Homo sapiens: one gene and its partner. The protein of the gene in region 1 interacts with the protein of each later gene in a pairwise test. Each region holds a gene or a part of one and is shown on either strand. Other genes may lie near its edges.

The links. The genes of interacting proteins can lie anywhere in the genome.
Region 2: the proteins of KDM5C (region 1) and REST interact in binary tests that used the Homo sapiens proteins (3 or more experiments, as listed by UniProt).

The regions. Positions count from the first base shown.
Region 1 is NC_000023.11:53,208,188-53,215,222, forward strand, and holds part of KDM5C (lysine-specific demethylase 5C), read right to left. Parts: intron 6,661-7,035; coding exon 6,502-6,660; intron 3,720-6,501; coding exon 3,600-3,719; intron 3,469-3,599; coding exon 3,310-3,468; intron 2,671-3,309; coding exon 2,489-2,670; intron 2,390-2,488; coding exon 2,227-2,389; intron 1-2,226. UniProt on the Homo sapiens protein: Histone demethylase that specifically demethylates 'Lys-4' of histone H3, thereby playing a central role in histone code. Does not demethylate histone H3 'Lys-9', H3 'Lys-27', H3 'Lys-36', H3 'Lys-79' or H4 'Lys-20'.
Region 2 is NC_000004.12:56,924,872-56,931,906, reverse strand, and holds part of REST (RE1-silencing transcription factor), read right to left. Parts: intron 2,067-7,035; coding exon 1-2,066. UniProt on the Homo sapiens protein: Transcriptional repressor which binds neuron-restrictive silencer element (NRSE) and represses neuronal gene transcription in non-neuronal cells.

The sequences.
Region 1 (7,035 bases):
CTGGAGATGCTGTGAACTACCTATAGGAAGGGCAGGGCAGACAGAGGGCTGGGTGGTAAAGTAGCAGCTGGCCAGAGAAGATGATGAGCCACGAGCAGGAGAAATGCTGTGGAGGTGTAAGCAAAAAGCACGTATTTTGGATTCTGTGATAAAGTTTTTTAAAAAGCGGTAAGGACTAAACAGCTCCATGACCTTCTGCATATGTATATATACATATATATACACATACATATATATATATATATATATATATATACACACACACATATATATATATATGCCTCTTAGCTACCCAAATCCTTCAGAGAATCCTTTTTTTTTTTTTTTTTTTTTTGAAATGGAGTCTCTCCACCTGTTGCCCAGGCTGGAATGCAATGGCACGATCTCGGCTCACTGCAACCTCCGCCTCCTGGGTTCAAGTGATTCTCCCGCCTCAGCCTCCCCAGTAGCTGGGACTACAGGCACGTGCCACCACGCCCGGCTAATTCTGTATTTTTATTAGAGACGAGGTTTCACCATGTTGGCCAGGCTGGTCTCGAACTCCTGACCTCAGGTGATCCGGCCGCCTCAGCCTCCCAAAGTGCTGGGATTACAGGCATGAGCCACCACACCCGGCTCTTTTTTTTTTTTTTTTTTTTTTTTTTTTGAGACAGGGTCTCACTATGTTGCCCAGGCTGGAGTGCAGTGGTACAATCTCGGCTCACTGCAACCTCTGCCTCCCGGGTTCAAGCGATTCTCCTGCCTCCTGATCCTGAGTAGCTGGGATTACAGGCGTGCGCCACCATACCTGGCTAATTTTTGTATTTTTAGTAGAGACTGGGGTTTCACCGTGTCGGCCAAGCTGGTTTTGAACTCCTGACCTCAAGTGATCTGACTGCCTTGGCCTCCCAAAGTGCTGGGATTACAGGCGTGAGCCACCGTGCCTGGCCAAGAGAATCCTCTTTTACAGTTTTCCATGGCATTATAGACAAGGACTGATGCTGTGCTATGGGTCAGGAAGAGAGAAGTCTAAGGAAAGTCAGACCCCATGTCTACTTGTAAAGCAGCAGAACTCAAGCCCTTGATCATCATCCTTAAATGGGGTGAGGTAGAGAGAGAAAAGGATAACTCCCTGAGTGGAGGAAGATTGCCTGAACTGTTATAGGACACCTCCTTCTGTCCAATTCCCTAGATATCCCAAGTCCTTGGTTAAATATCACTAAATTTTATAATAAAAAAATATTACTCATGGGGCATATAGTATACCAAAACAAGGAGAAGGCAAAAAGAAATGCAGGTGAGAACCACTGACCTAGTCCAAAGCCCTACTGTACAGATATCTAGGAATATCTGAAGGAGACATTAATTCAGTATTTATTGACTATCTCATACATTAGAGTAAGTGGTAATGTGTCCAAGGCCAAAGAGCGTGGAAGGGTGTAGGGAAGAGTAGCAGCCCCGGATAATACTTAAAGCAGAGATAGAGGATCTACTAATTCCTGTTCTTACAGGACTAGTGATCAGGCTGTTTTAAGATCCACACCAGAAAACTGGCTGATGCTAATCAATGCTAGAAATTCCCAGGAATATAAAGTCTCTCACAGGTAAGCCATGTTGTATACCCAGCAAAATGTTTTAAAGGGTAAGAAAGAAGTACACAGAGGATAGACCAGAACTCTGGGTTCAACTTTTGACCTGTTAAATAAAAAGACCTATCCACTGCTCTGAGAAGGGTAAGAGTATACAAAGTATGGCAGAGGCTGCTAGTTGTACCTCGATATTCATTCTTGTCTTCTGTCATAACAACATGACCTCCAGTTTTAAGTGGTACTTGACCATCCAAAATAAGAATTACATTTCCCAGTTTTCCCTGCAGCTAGATGTGGTCATATGACCAAGTTTTTACTAACAGAAGGTGAATGGAAATGATGTGTGCCTTTAAAAGATTTGTCTAGCCCTGCACTTCCCCACTTCCCTCTTCCACTGGCTGGAATGTAGATGTGATAATAAGCCACCCCTTAGCTGTTACCGTCAAACACATGGCCCAGAGGGCATACCATCATACGGTGCATCTAATCACTATTATTTTGGGTCTCTACTAGACTAGTCAAACCCGTAGCCCAATTAAGAACAGCAATGAAGAAAGGCCAGGGGCAGAATACAGATGACAACCACCGCCACCACCACCATCACAAAGGACATCACTAAATCACTCCTGCCGCTTGTCCCTGTTGCCTGGGTACTCACTGGCACACCATGGGACATGAGGGTGTTGGGATTCATGAGGGTGACAAGTTGGTGCAGGAGGTCAGGCTGGCTATCAAATAGTTCAGGTGTCAGCTTCTTCATCACTTCTTCCAAATGTTCTGCTGCAAGTGAGGGCACCCCATACCAGGTCTTCGGCTCACCCCTGCACAAGTGGAAAAGGGACACACACAGTAAATCACACCTTGGTCATGCAGGGAGCCCACACTGACTTGATTCCCTGGCTCCCCAGGGTCCCACTCACCAGTGGAGGTAGTTAATGGAGTAACTCCAGTGATCCTCAATATGCCAGCAAAAGGCTGAGAAGACCATGCCCACGTAGAGCCAGGGCACCTTCATGCCAGAGATATCTGCATTGATGTGGCACAGTACAGACTGTTCCAACACCGGCATCACATTTAGGTTCCAACCACTGGTAGCATACTCCTGCCAGGTCAGGTATTTGTAAAAAGGGCATGAGGGTTATGCTAAGGAACTGAGATCTTAAGTCATTTTCTTTAGCCTAGGGAACCTTAATTTTGAGGTCAGAGACTTTTTTGAAACATCTTAAGAAACATATAGGTTTTCTCCCTACCTCTCCACCAAAAAGCATACACACAAAATTTCAATTGTATTCACTTCAATTTCTACGAAGTTTACCGATATATCCACCTACCAAAATACCTGCAAGTTAAAAAAATCCTGCTCTGGATCAAAATGTACCCTTTCTTGGAAGCACAACTAGGCCCTCATTTTCTCCTGTGCATACAAACCCCACTCCCTGAACACTACTTATGGATGAGCCAGGATCTCATATACCTTCTCATTTAATTTTTATAACAAATTTGCAAAGTAGATATTATCCCCATTTTAAAGATAAGGAAATGGGCTCACAGAGGCGAAAGAACCCATCTCATGTTTGTACATGCCAGGTACCAGACTGTTTTCTTTCATCTCATCTAAATCTCATGGCTACATAAGACAGGCATAATTATCCTCATCTTACAGAGATACTGAGTTTTTCAGATACTAAATGATTTGCCTAAGCTCACACAGCTGACACGTAACCATGAATCATCCACTCACCTCCTCTTCGGGGGTTAGGTGCCGTTTACTGTCACTGACAGGGAAACCGCTGCCAAATTCTTTGGAATGGATGTCAGCTCCATACTCAACAGTCACATCTTCCTCAATGCTATTTACCAGCCTCCAGAACTCCTTCTCCACAAGTTCTGTGGGCACCATCTGGGGGAAGACAGGTAGCAGATGACTATGGCCCATCACACCCTGGACCCACTGATCCAGGTGAGCTGAGACCATCTGGCATCAATACCTATGATCCTAGCCCAACACTACCTCAGCCCTCCATCACCTACATGCACGGGCATGTTGAAGTAGTCAGCTTTAAAGGAGTCGGCCATCTCGCCAAAGCTCTGCAGAGTGTATTCCCGGGTAGCCTGCTCAAAGCCAAAGGCTTCTGGGGGCCGCTTACACTCCTGAAACCCAAAGGAGAACATGTCACCAAAACAGAGGCAAAGAGGTGAAGAATCCTCCCAAGTGGAACTGGAATATAAGGGGTAGGGAGGGAGAAGAGCCCTAGGTCTGCACTCAAGGCCCCTGAGGCAGGCCTTACTTTACAGCTGTACCTTTTGCTCTTACCACTTCGGCTTAGTCTTTTCATTCCCCATCATGCTTTTGCTCAGTTCCTCCCTACTGAAATGTCCTTTTCCACTTTCTTTCATTGGTTCCTCAAAACTCAATTCCAGTCTCACAACTTCCAGGGAGTCATCTCATGCTCTTTTCTTCCTTTAGGACTTTATCTAAATGGCTCTGACTTTAATATGCTATCCTGTGTTCTTCTGCCACCATTTTTCCTCTCTAGCTAAAATGTGATTCTTTTTTTTTTTTTTTTTGAGACGGAGTCTTGCTCTGTCACCCAGACTGGAGTGCAGGGTCACAATCTCAACTCACTGCAACCTCCGCCTCCCAGGTTCAAGCGATTCTCCTGCCTCAGCTTCCCGAGTAGCTGGGATTACAGGTGCCCGCCACCACGCCCAGCTAATTTTTGTATTTTTAGTAGAGATGGGGTTTCACCATGTTGGCCAGGCTGGTCTCAAACTCCTGACCCTGTGATCCGCCCGCCTTGGCCTCCCAAGTGCTGGGATTACAGGCGTGAGCCACCACGCCTGGCCTCTAAAATGTGGTTCTATGCAGGGTGCTTAGAGAAGGTTTTTTATGCCCAGACTAGAACTGTAAGGCTGGGAAAATGGCATTGAATATTCCAGTACCTTGAAAGATGGAAAACAGGGCCGGGCATGGTGGCTCATGCCTGTAAACCCAGCACTTTGGGAGGCTGAGGTGGGGTGGATCACCTGAGGTCAGGAGTTCGAGACCAGCCTGGCCACCATGGTGAAACCCTGTCTCTACTAGAACTACAAAAACTAGCCAGGTGTGGTGGCAGGCGCCTGTAATCCCAGCTACTCAGGAGGCTGAGGCAGGAGAATCGCTTGAACCCGGGAGGCAGAGGTTGCAGTGAGCAGAGATGGCATCACTGCACTCCAGCCTGGGTGACAGAGCAAGATTCTGTCGCAAGAAAAGAAAAAGAAAAAAGAAAGATGGAAAATGAAGACACTGGCTTTTACAGTATCAAACCCTCCACTAATCCTGTTCTTGAGACTGTCTCAGAAGATAGGATGTGGGTCTACCTCATTTTGTACCTATGTTCATTATTTTAGATGAGAACAATATGTACCCCAAAATCAGACACACACCATGCTTATGTTTGAAAAATAAATGTCCGTCTGGTCCACTGACTTATAACCACTTAGAGAAGAGAGTCAAGTAGAGTCGACAGTCTTGATACTGTTGGTATCCAAACTCCTCCCCAACTAGAATCTCCACCACTACCAAGGCCAATATGCACTGCCCTGATTTTTCCTCATCTGTGTATGTCTGTCTGTGTGTATGTATGCATGTGCACACCCGGTCTCTACAACCACAGTTGAGTCCCTAAGATAAGGCGAATGTCTGCTCTACAGAAATCCAGAGGGAAATGTAGAAGGTAAGTACCGAGAATTTGGGTGAAGGTAGGAAGTTCATGAAATGTACCTGCCCAACTTCCTGGCTGCTTGGCCCTTACTGCTGCTTCAGCTGCTCTCCTTACTGCCCCTATACCCATAGTAGGCATGCTCTCCTGCTATACCTCTGTTCCTGCTAGTCCTCCACCTCCCAGTCCTGAACAGCCAACCACCTCTCTAGTTAAAGCCTGTAGCACTGCCTCAATCTAAATATAACAAGAGGAAAACAACTAAATAAATATTATACCCATGATACACCATCTAAAAAAATTCCAGACCTTAATTAAACTTAGTAATATAGAGAAATGGTTATAAAGCAACAAATGAAAATATATAACAAGATCTCAAACTTGTTAAAGATAGTTACATATAAGTAACAGCAAAAAGATGAGAAAAAAATATATCAAACTATTAACAATGGTTATCACTGGGTGGTGGGAACACAAGTAATTTGCCTATTTTCCAAAATGTCTTTTTTTTTTTTGAAGACAGGGTCTCATTTTGTTGCCCAGGCTGGAGTGCAGTGGCATGATTTTGGCACACTGCAACCTCCGCCTCCTGGGCTCAAGCGATCCTCCCACCTCAGCCTCCCGAGCAGCTGGGACAACAGGCGTGCGCCACCATGCCTGGCTAATTTTTGTATCTTTTTTGGTAGAGACGGGGTTTCGCCATGTTGCCCAGGCTGGTCTCAAACTTCTGGGCTCAAACGATCCGCCCACCTCAGCCTCCCAAAGTGCTAGGATTACAGGCGTGAGCCACCGCGCCCGGCCTCAAACTTTCTAAAAAAGAAAAAAAAAAACAAAACAAAAACTCAGAAATTGAAAGAACATTTTTTTCTTAATATTCCTATCCTTCAAGTCTCATTTCTGACATTTTCCCTGATTATTACCCTTAGCTATTTTCCTCTCCTCTGAACTTCTATATCTCAGAGTTTCTAACACACAATTTAGCCTCTGTTTATATGTCACCACATATAGTCTAATTATGATGCTTACCTCTCCAGGTGGTCTGGGAGCTCTTAGAGGACAGAAGCAAAGGCTGAATCTCCTGCTCCTTTCTCCCAAAGCTCTGCCCAGCCTAATCCCACCACAGAGACCCAAAACCTAAGACTATGGCTGAGCTAAGAGGCTGCCCTCAATAAGGCCAGATGAAGGAAGGCAAGGAAGCCCTATGAGGCAGATGTGGAGTGGGGAGGCCTTACCGCCATGACACACTTTGGGCACCGCCAGACACCCTTGGGGATCTCAGGCAGAGGAGGCAGCAGGCAGAAGATGTGGTAGTTGTCATCACAGCCATCACACAGCAGGAGCTTGTCATCCTCATCCCCTCGAGAACACATCCGGCAGACATATGACTCAATCTGCCAGGGGAGAAGAGCAAAAGTTCTCCATTGGAAATCCACTGTGTTTGCTGGCTGAATGATTTACAGCCCTGTATAGGCTAGTCATGCTAGGTCTGGAGCTCAACTGCACGTATGTACCATCTCCCCAAATAAGCAGGTAGAGCTGCAAGAGCAGTCTTTTATCATCCAGTCTTGAATCCTCCCATTTTTATTCATCCAATAAACACTTACTAAACCCGTATTCAGAACTACGCTGGACTCTAGCACAAAGACAAGACATGGTATCCTTCCAAGTATATACAGTACTCTAGAGACATGTGTTCATAAAAATTAAAAATTGCCAATAGCGGTCCATAAAGGGCACTGTGGGAGCCTAGAGAAGGAAGCACTCAA
Region 2 (7,035 bases), on another chromosome or scaffold:
TCCTTCATGGCTGTGGATGCCTTCATCTTCATCAATTTCCTGAGACTCATTTGCTGCCATTGTAGCAGGAGGTGATGCCAGTGCAGTTTTGGACACTGCTTCACGTTCTTCTACTGCTGAAGGGGGAAGCATTGGTGAAACTGGTTCTTCAACTGTTGAATTTATACCAGTGAGATTCTCTCTTGTGTTCTGATCAGTGTCCATTTTCATTTCACAAACTATACTGTCAGTCTGATGTTTACCATTTAAAGTTTCACCCTCTGGCGTATTCAAGTTTTGTCCAGAGGATGAAATATGGGTAGATTCGTTGATATTAGCAGCAAGACCAGGTAGGCTCTCATCTGCCTCTTCTGCTCCTACTTTCTGAAGAGGGGCTTCTTTATTTCCTTCACCTGTGTTGAGTAATTTTTGGTCTCCTGATGCCTCTTCTCTTAAATTTTCCTTTGGCAGTGGTGGTGATGGTGGTGAGAGATCCTCTGTGCTTACACTTTCCTTTAGAAGCCAGCTATCTTTAACAGGCACTAAGCCAACTTCAATAAGGACTTGCTCCTTCCGTGCCCTTTCACTCTGCATGTTAGACTTTTCCTTTTTATCTTTTCGGAGAGGAGGCTTTTTGGAAATTGGCTCCATGTGAAGGGGAGGCTCTCTGGGAGGAGGTGGCTCCCTCTGAGCAGGCTCCTTCTGAACCACCCCCATGGGAGGAGACAACTCCATCTGAACAGGCTCCTTCTGGACCACCTCTATGGGAGGAGACAGCTCTATCTTAACAGGTTCCTTCTGGACCACCTCCATGGGAGGAGACAGCTCTATCTGAACAGGCTCCTTCTGGACCACCTCCATGGGAGGAGACAGCTCCATCTGAACAGGCTCCTTCTGGACCACCTGCATGGGAGCAGATTCTACCTGGGCAACCTCCATCTGAGCAGGTTCCATGGGAGCAGGCCCCATTTGGGCAACCTCCGTCTGAGCAGTCTCCATGGGAGGAGGCAGCTCCATGTGAGCAAGTACAATTTGGGCACCCACCATCTGAGCAGGCTCCACGGGAGGCAGCAGCTCCTTCTGAGCAGGCCCCTCCTGAACCACCTCCATCTGAACAGGCTCGTCAGGAGCAGGCCGTATCTGGGCACCCTCCATCTGAGCATGCTCCATGGGAGGTGGCGGCTCCACCTGAACGGGCCCCTTCTGAACCGCCTCTGTGGGAGCAGGCCCCATCTGAGGAGGGTCCATCTGAGCAGATCCCTTCTCAACAGGTTCCTTCTGAGGAGGCTTACTGCTTTTCTTACTTGATTTATTTTTCAGAGTTTTCTTCTTTGTACTTTTTTTCATGCAAGTATTTTGCTTTTTATTCTCCTCCACTTTGCTGTCACCCTTTGGCACTTCCTGACTATTATTTTTGGATTTGCTTTCTACCTTCTTTTTCTTTTTTGTTGAAGATTCCTCATCATTCACAGGACCATGTAAAGAATGGCTGTCAACTTCCAGCTTCCTTTTGCTTTTCTTAGTTTTACTGAATTTTTCTGAATTGCTTCCTGTATGCACATCCATCTCTTTCACCTCTGTTACTGATTTTCGAGTTCTGGTAGTCACCTGGATCACTGACACATTATTAGAAGGCTTTTTCTCTTTTGAGACATCTCTTTTCTCTGCTTTGACGGACTTTTCATTTTTCTTTCCAGCCACATCCCCTTTTATTTTTGTTTGTTCTATTTCTGTTTTTTCATTGGTAATATTATCAGGCAAGTCAGCCTCTCGTTTTTTGGTTTTCTTTAGTTTCACTTTTGAGACATCCATTGTTTTATTAGGACAAGTAGGATGCTTAGATTTGAAGTGATACTGTAGATTACACTTCTTGGAAGCTGCATAGTCACATACAGGGCAATTGAACTGCCGTGGGTTCACATGTAGCTCTACATGTTTTTTGAAGTTGCTTCTATCTGCTGTTTTGTAATCACAGTGTGGGCAATTAAGAGGTTTAGGCCCATTGTGAACCTGTCTTGCATGGCGGGTTACTTCATGTTGATTAGAGGCCACATAACTGCACTGATCACATTTAAATGGCTTCTCACCTGAAGGCAAATCAAAAGTATGAGAGAAGACATAGATTAAGACAAATTCAAGATTAAAATATAAAGAACTGTATATGTAAAGTAACAACAAAGACTATTTAAAATGCTGTATCATGCACCTTACATTTACCATATTTATTTGTATAACATTTCTCTATCCCTTGACATTGATTCTCAAAAGAGAGGAATAAATCTCAGTTAACCACAAGCTTCAAAAAAGTTCAAGTTAGAGTCCTCAAGCACTACTAAAGAACAGAGATTCTTTAAGACATACACATATTGGCAAAGTTCAATTGGGCTCTGGATGTTAATTTGGAGGAATATTATCAACTTAAAAATTTTTTTGTGTGTTTAGTTAAATGCCTAATGGAGTAGAAAATAAAATTCTGGCCAGGTGCAGTGGCTCACAACTATAACCTCAACTCTCTGGGAGGCCATGGCAGAAGGACTGCTTGAGCCCAGGAATTAGAGAACAACCTGAGCAAAATAAATCAAAACAAAATTAACTTTGGGAGGCCAAGGTGGGCGGATACCTTGAGGCCAGGAGTTTGAAACCAGCCTGGCCAACACGGTGAAACCCCATCTCTACTAAAAATACAAAAAAAATTAGCTGGGCGTGGTGTTGCACACCAGTAATCCCACCTATTCAGGAGGCTGAGACACGAGAATTGCTTTAACCCAGGAGGCAGAGGTTGCAGTGAGCTGAGATCGCACTACTTCACTCCAGCCTAGGTGACAGCGAGACTGTGTCTCAAAGAAAAAAAAAAAAAAAAAATTAGCCAGGCATAGTGGAGTGCACCTGTAGTCCTAGCTACTCGGGAGGCAAAGGCGGGAGGACCGCTTAAGCCCAGGAATTTGAAGTAGCAGTGAGTTGTGAATGTGCTACTGAACTCCAACCTGGGCAACAGAGCAAGGCCCTGTCTCAAAAATAAATCAATACATAAAATTCCCAGCCAGGTGCGGTAGCTCACACCTGTAAATCCCAGCACTTTGGGAGGCCAAGGCAGGTGGATCACCTGAGGTCAGGAGTTCAAGGCAAGCCTGGCCAACATAGTAAAACCCCATCTCTACTAAAAATATAAAAAAATTTAGCTGGGCGTGGTGTTGCATGCCAGTAATCCCACCTACTAGGGAGGCTGAGACACGAGAATTGCTTTAACTCAGGAGGCGGAGGTTGCAGTCAGCTGAGATCCCACCACTTCACTTCAGCCTGGGCGACAGTAAGACTTTGTCTCACAAAAAGAAAAAAAAAAAAAAATTAGCCAGGCATGGTGGAGTGCACCTGCAGTCCCAGCTACTTGGGAGGCAAAGGCGGGAGGACCACTTAAGCCCAGGAATCTGAAGTAGCATGGAGTTGTGAATGTGTTACTGTACTCCAACCTGGGCAACAGGGCAAGGCCCTGTCTCAAAAATACATCAATAAATAAAATTCCCAGCCAGGTGTGGTGGCTCACACCTGTAATCCCAGCACTTTGGGAGGCGAAGGCAGTGGATCACCTGAGGTCAGGAGTTCAAGACCAGCCTGGCCAACATGGTGAAACCCTGTTTCTACTAAAAATACAAAAAATTAGCCGGGTGTAGTGGCAGATGCCTGTAATCCCAGCTACTCAGGAGGCTGAAGAAGGAGAATTGCTTGGACCCAGAAGGCAAGATTACAGTGAGCCAAGATCGCACCACTGCACTACAGCCTGGGCGACAAGAGCGAAACTTCGTCTCAAAAATAAATAAAAATAAAATAAAATTCCCATACTCCCTCCACCCTAAATTTCTTATGGTAAATCTTGAGAAAAATATCTTTCACTCTGGGCGATACTCCCAGATCCTAGGTGCAAAAGTTTTGAAATTCTGCTTTAGTCTGAGCAAAGGCTTTTTCTTGAAATTTAATCCTTCTGTCCGTCATGGCAAGAGCTGAGTAAATTTTCACTTAGCAAACTTCCTGCGCTAGCATTGCTATTTTAAAGCAAAAATATAGGCCAAGGTAATTATTCAGAAAACTTTCTTGATTTTCCCCCCACCTTTCTATAAAATACATAAAGGAACTAGGTAATGAGAAGTGGCACACAAATAGATATGGTATGTAAAATAAGCAAAGTCACAATCACTGATACATAAAAAACCAGAACCCCCACCCCCAAATTAAAGGCATAAGAGTAATACATTCTACCTGAATACATACCCATCTAGATCACACTCTAGTAAATATTACCAAATGGTATCCATACCCCACTGGTCCAATGGAATGCATAGTAGAAAAACGGAAATTGACATTTATGAAAATTCATCTCAAACATTCTCAAATTCATATCAAATTGTACTAAAAATTTTCATAAAGCAAAACTCAGACATTAGGTAAAACCATGTAGATGTTAAGTTTTACATGATTAGAAAATGCCTGGTGATAAAATAATCACCTTATCCAGGTAGTCAAATTAGATATTCAGCTGACTGGACAATTCTTCTCCATGTTGGTCTACTAACAGATTTACAAATATGCAAGTTTCTACAACATGCTACATTACTCTATACCTGGTTCTCTCCAGTGAATGATTTAAATGGAGACAAACATTTTAACATACGTGGACATAGAATGTAGAAAGATAGGTAGCATAAGGCCTAAGAACTTCTAGATAGAGCTAGACCATCTGGGAGATAAAACATGAGCTCTGCAAGTTGCTCACTCTGAGACTTTGAGCAAAGTCCTGAAACCTCTCTAGAGTTCAATTTCTTTCTTTTTTTTTTTTCTTGAGATGGAGTTTCACTCTTGTTGCCCAGTCTGGAGTGCAATGGCGCGATCTCGGCTCACTGCAACCCCCGCCTCCCAGGTTCAAGCGATTCTCCTGCCTCACCTTCCCTAGTAGCTGGGATTACAGGCATGTGCCACTAAGCCTGGCTAATTTTGTATTTTTAGTAGAGACGGCATTTCTCCATGTTGATCAGGCTGGTCTCGAACTCCTGATCTCAGGTGATCCACCCTCCTCGGCCTCCCAAAGTGCTGGGATTACAGGCGTGAGCCACCGCGCCCGGCCTCAATTTCATCTATAAAATACTCTCTAAGTGTTGTGAGCTATAAATAATCTAATCTATGTAAAGTCCTTAACATGGAGCAGACAGCAAGAACTCAAAATGTGTTACCTATAATTGTTCACTTTTGGAACCAATTGGTAACTTTGAGTATGGATAAATAAAAGGGAAGACTCAGCAGGGCGCGGTGGGTCACGCCTGTAGTCCCAAAACTTTGGGAGGCATTTTTGTAAAAATATAAAATTTGGGGAGGCATTTTGTAAAAATACAAAAAAATTAGCTAGGCGTGGTGATGCGTGCCTACAGTCCCAGCTACTTGGGAGGCTGAGGCAGGAGAATCCCTTGAACCCGGGAGGCAGAGGGTGCAGTGAGCCGAGATCGCACTACTGCACTCCAGCCTGGGCAACAGAGCAAGACTCCATCTCAAAAAAATAAATAAATAAAAAAGGCTGGGCGCAGTGGCTCACGCCTGTAATCCCAGCACTTTGGGAAGCCGAGGCAGGCGAATCAAGAGGTCAGGAGTTGGAGACCAGGAGCCGGAGACCAGTCTGGCCAATATGGTGAAACCCCATCTCTACTAAAGATACAAAAACTTAGCCAGGCGTGGTGGTGCATGCCTGTAATCCCAGCTACTCGGGAGGCTGAGGCAGGAGAATCACTTGAACCCAGGAGGCGGAGGTTACAGTGAGCTGAAATCGTGCCATTGCACTCCAGCCTGGACGACAGGGTGAGACTCCATCTCAATCAATCGATCAATCAAGGGGAAGACTCTTACGTATCCTGTCTTTCCTACATCATGAGTAAATAGATAAGTGGAATTTATCTCTTCTCTTCATATTTACACACTAATAAAATAACTATAATTAAAATAGCACCATTTTATAACTCTGATGAATAAGGAGATCTATAGAGCAAGCATGCATCCATCAAGGTGCGAGGGTCCACCTAAGGAATGGTGAACGGAAAGGGAGGATGTAGAAATTTTCTGTTTAAAATTTGATGGCATGATTTATTTGCTCCGTTCTTTTTCTCCCGTAATTTTTACTTTATTGCCATGAAGTCTTGCTTATATTAAAATATATTCATCAAGATTTTCTAATTAGTACCTACCTGAATATTAACTTTTGCCCTGTACAAACAATTTTAAATTCTTTTTCCCAATTCTAGTAACAGGTTCTCTTCTTTATAAATCTACCAATTGTCTGTTTTATGCCTCCGAAATGAATTTATAGGTGTAAGCCAAGACAAAAGGGGAAAGAGTTCTGCAAGCTTTACACATACGTATCAAAAATATTCTTAGAAGAATGGCCAGGCATAGTGGTTCACACCCGTAATCCTAGCACTTTTGGGAGGATGAGGTGAGGAAGATTGCTTGAGCTAAGGAGGTTGAGACCAGTCTGGGCAACCTAGTGAGACCCTGTGTACAAAAAAATTTTTAAATTAGCCACATGTTATAGCACAAGCCTACAGTGCCACCTACTCCAGAGGCTGAGGTGGGAGGATCGTTTGAGCCTAGGAGGTTAAAGCCGCAGTGAAAAATACACAAATACAAGCCTCTCAATTTAAGTTTTTAAATTAATTCCCTTAAAAATAAAAACAAAACAAAACAAAAACCAAGAGAGAATGGCAAAGAAATTTTTTTTTTTTTTTTTTTTGAGACTGAGTCTCGCTCAGCTGCCCAGGCTGGAGTGCAATGGCGCAATCTCGGCTCACTGCAACCACCGTCTCCCGGGTTCAAGTGATTCTCCTGTCTCAGCCTCCGGAGTAGCTGGGATTACAGGCACCCGCCATCATGCCAGGCTAATTTTTGTATTTTAGCAGAGATGGGGTACCACCATGTTGGCCAGCCTGGTCTTGAACTTCTGACCTCCGATGATCCGCTCACCATGGTTTCCCAAAGCGCTAGGATTACAGGTGTGAACAACCGTGCATAGCCGGCAAAGAAAAT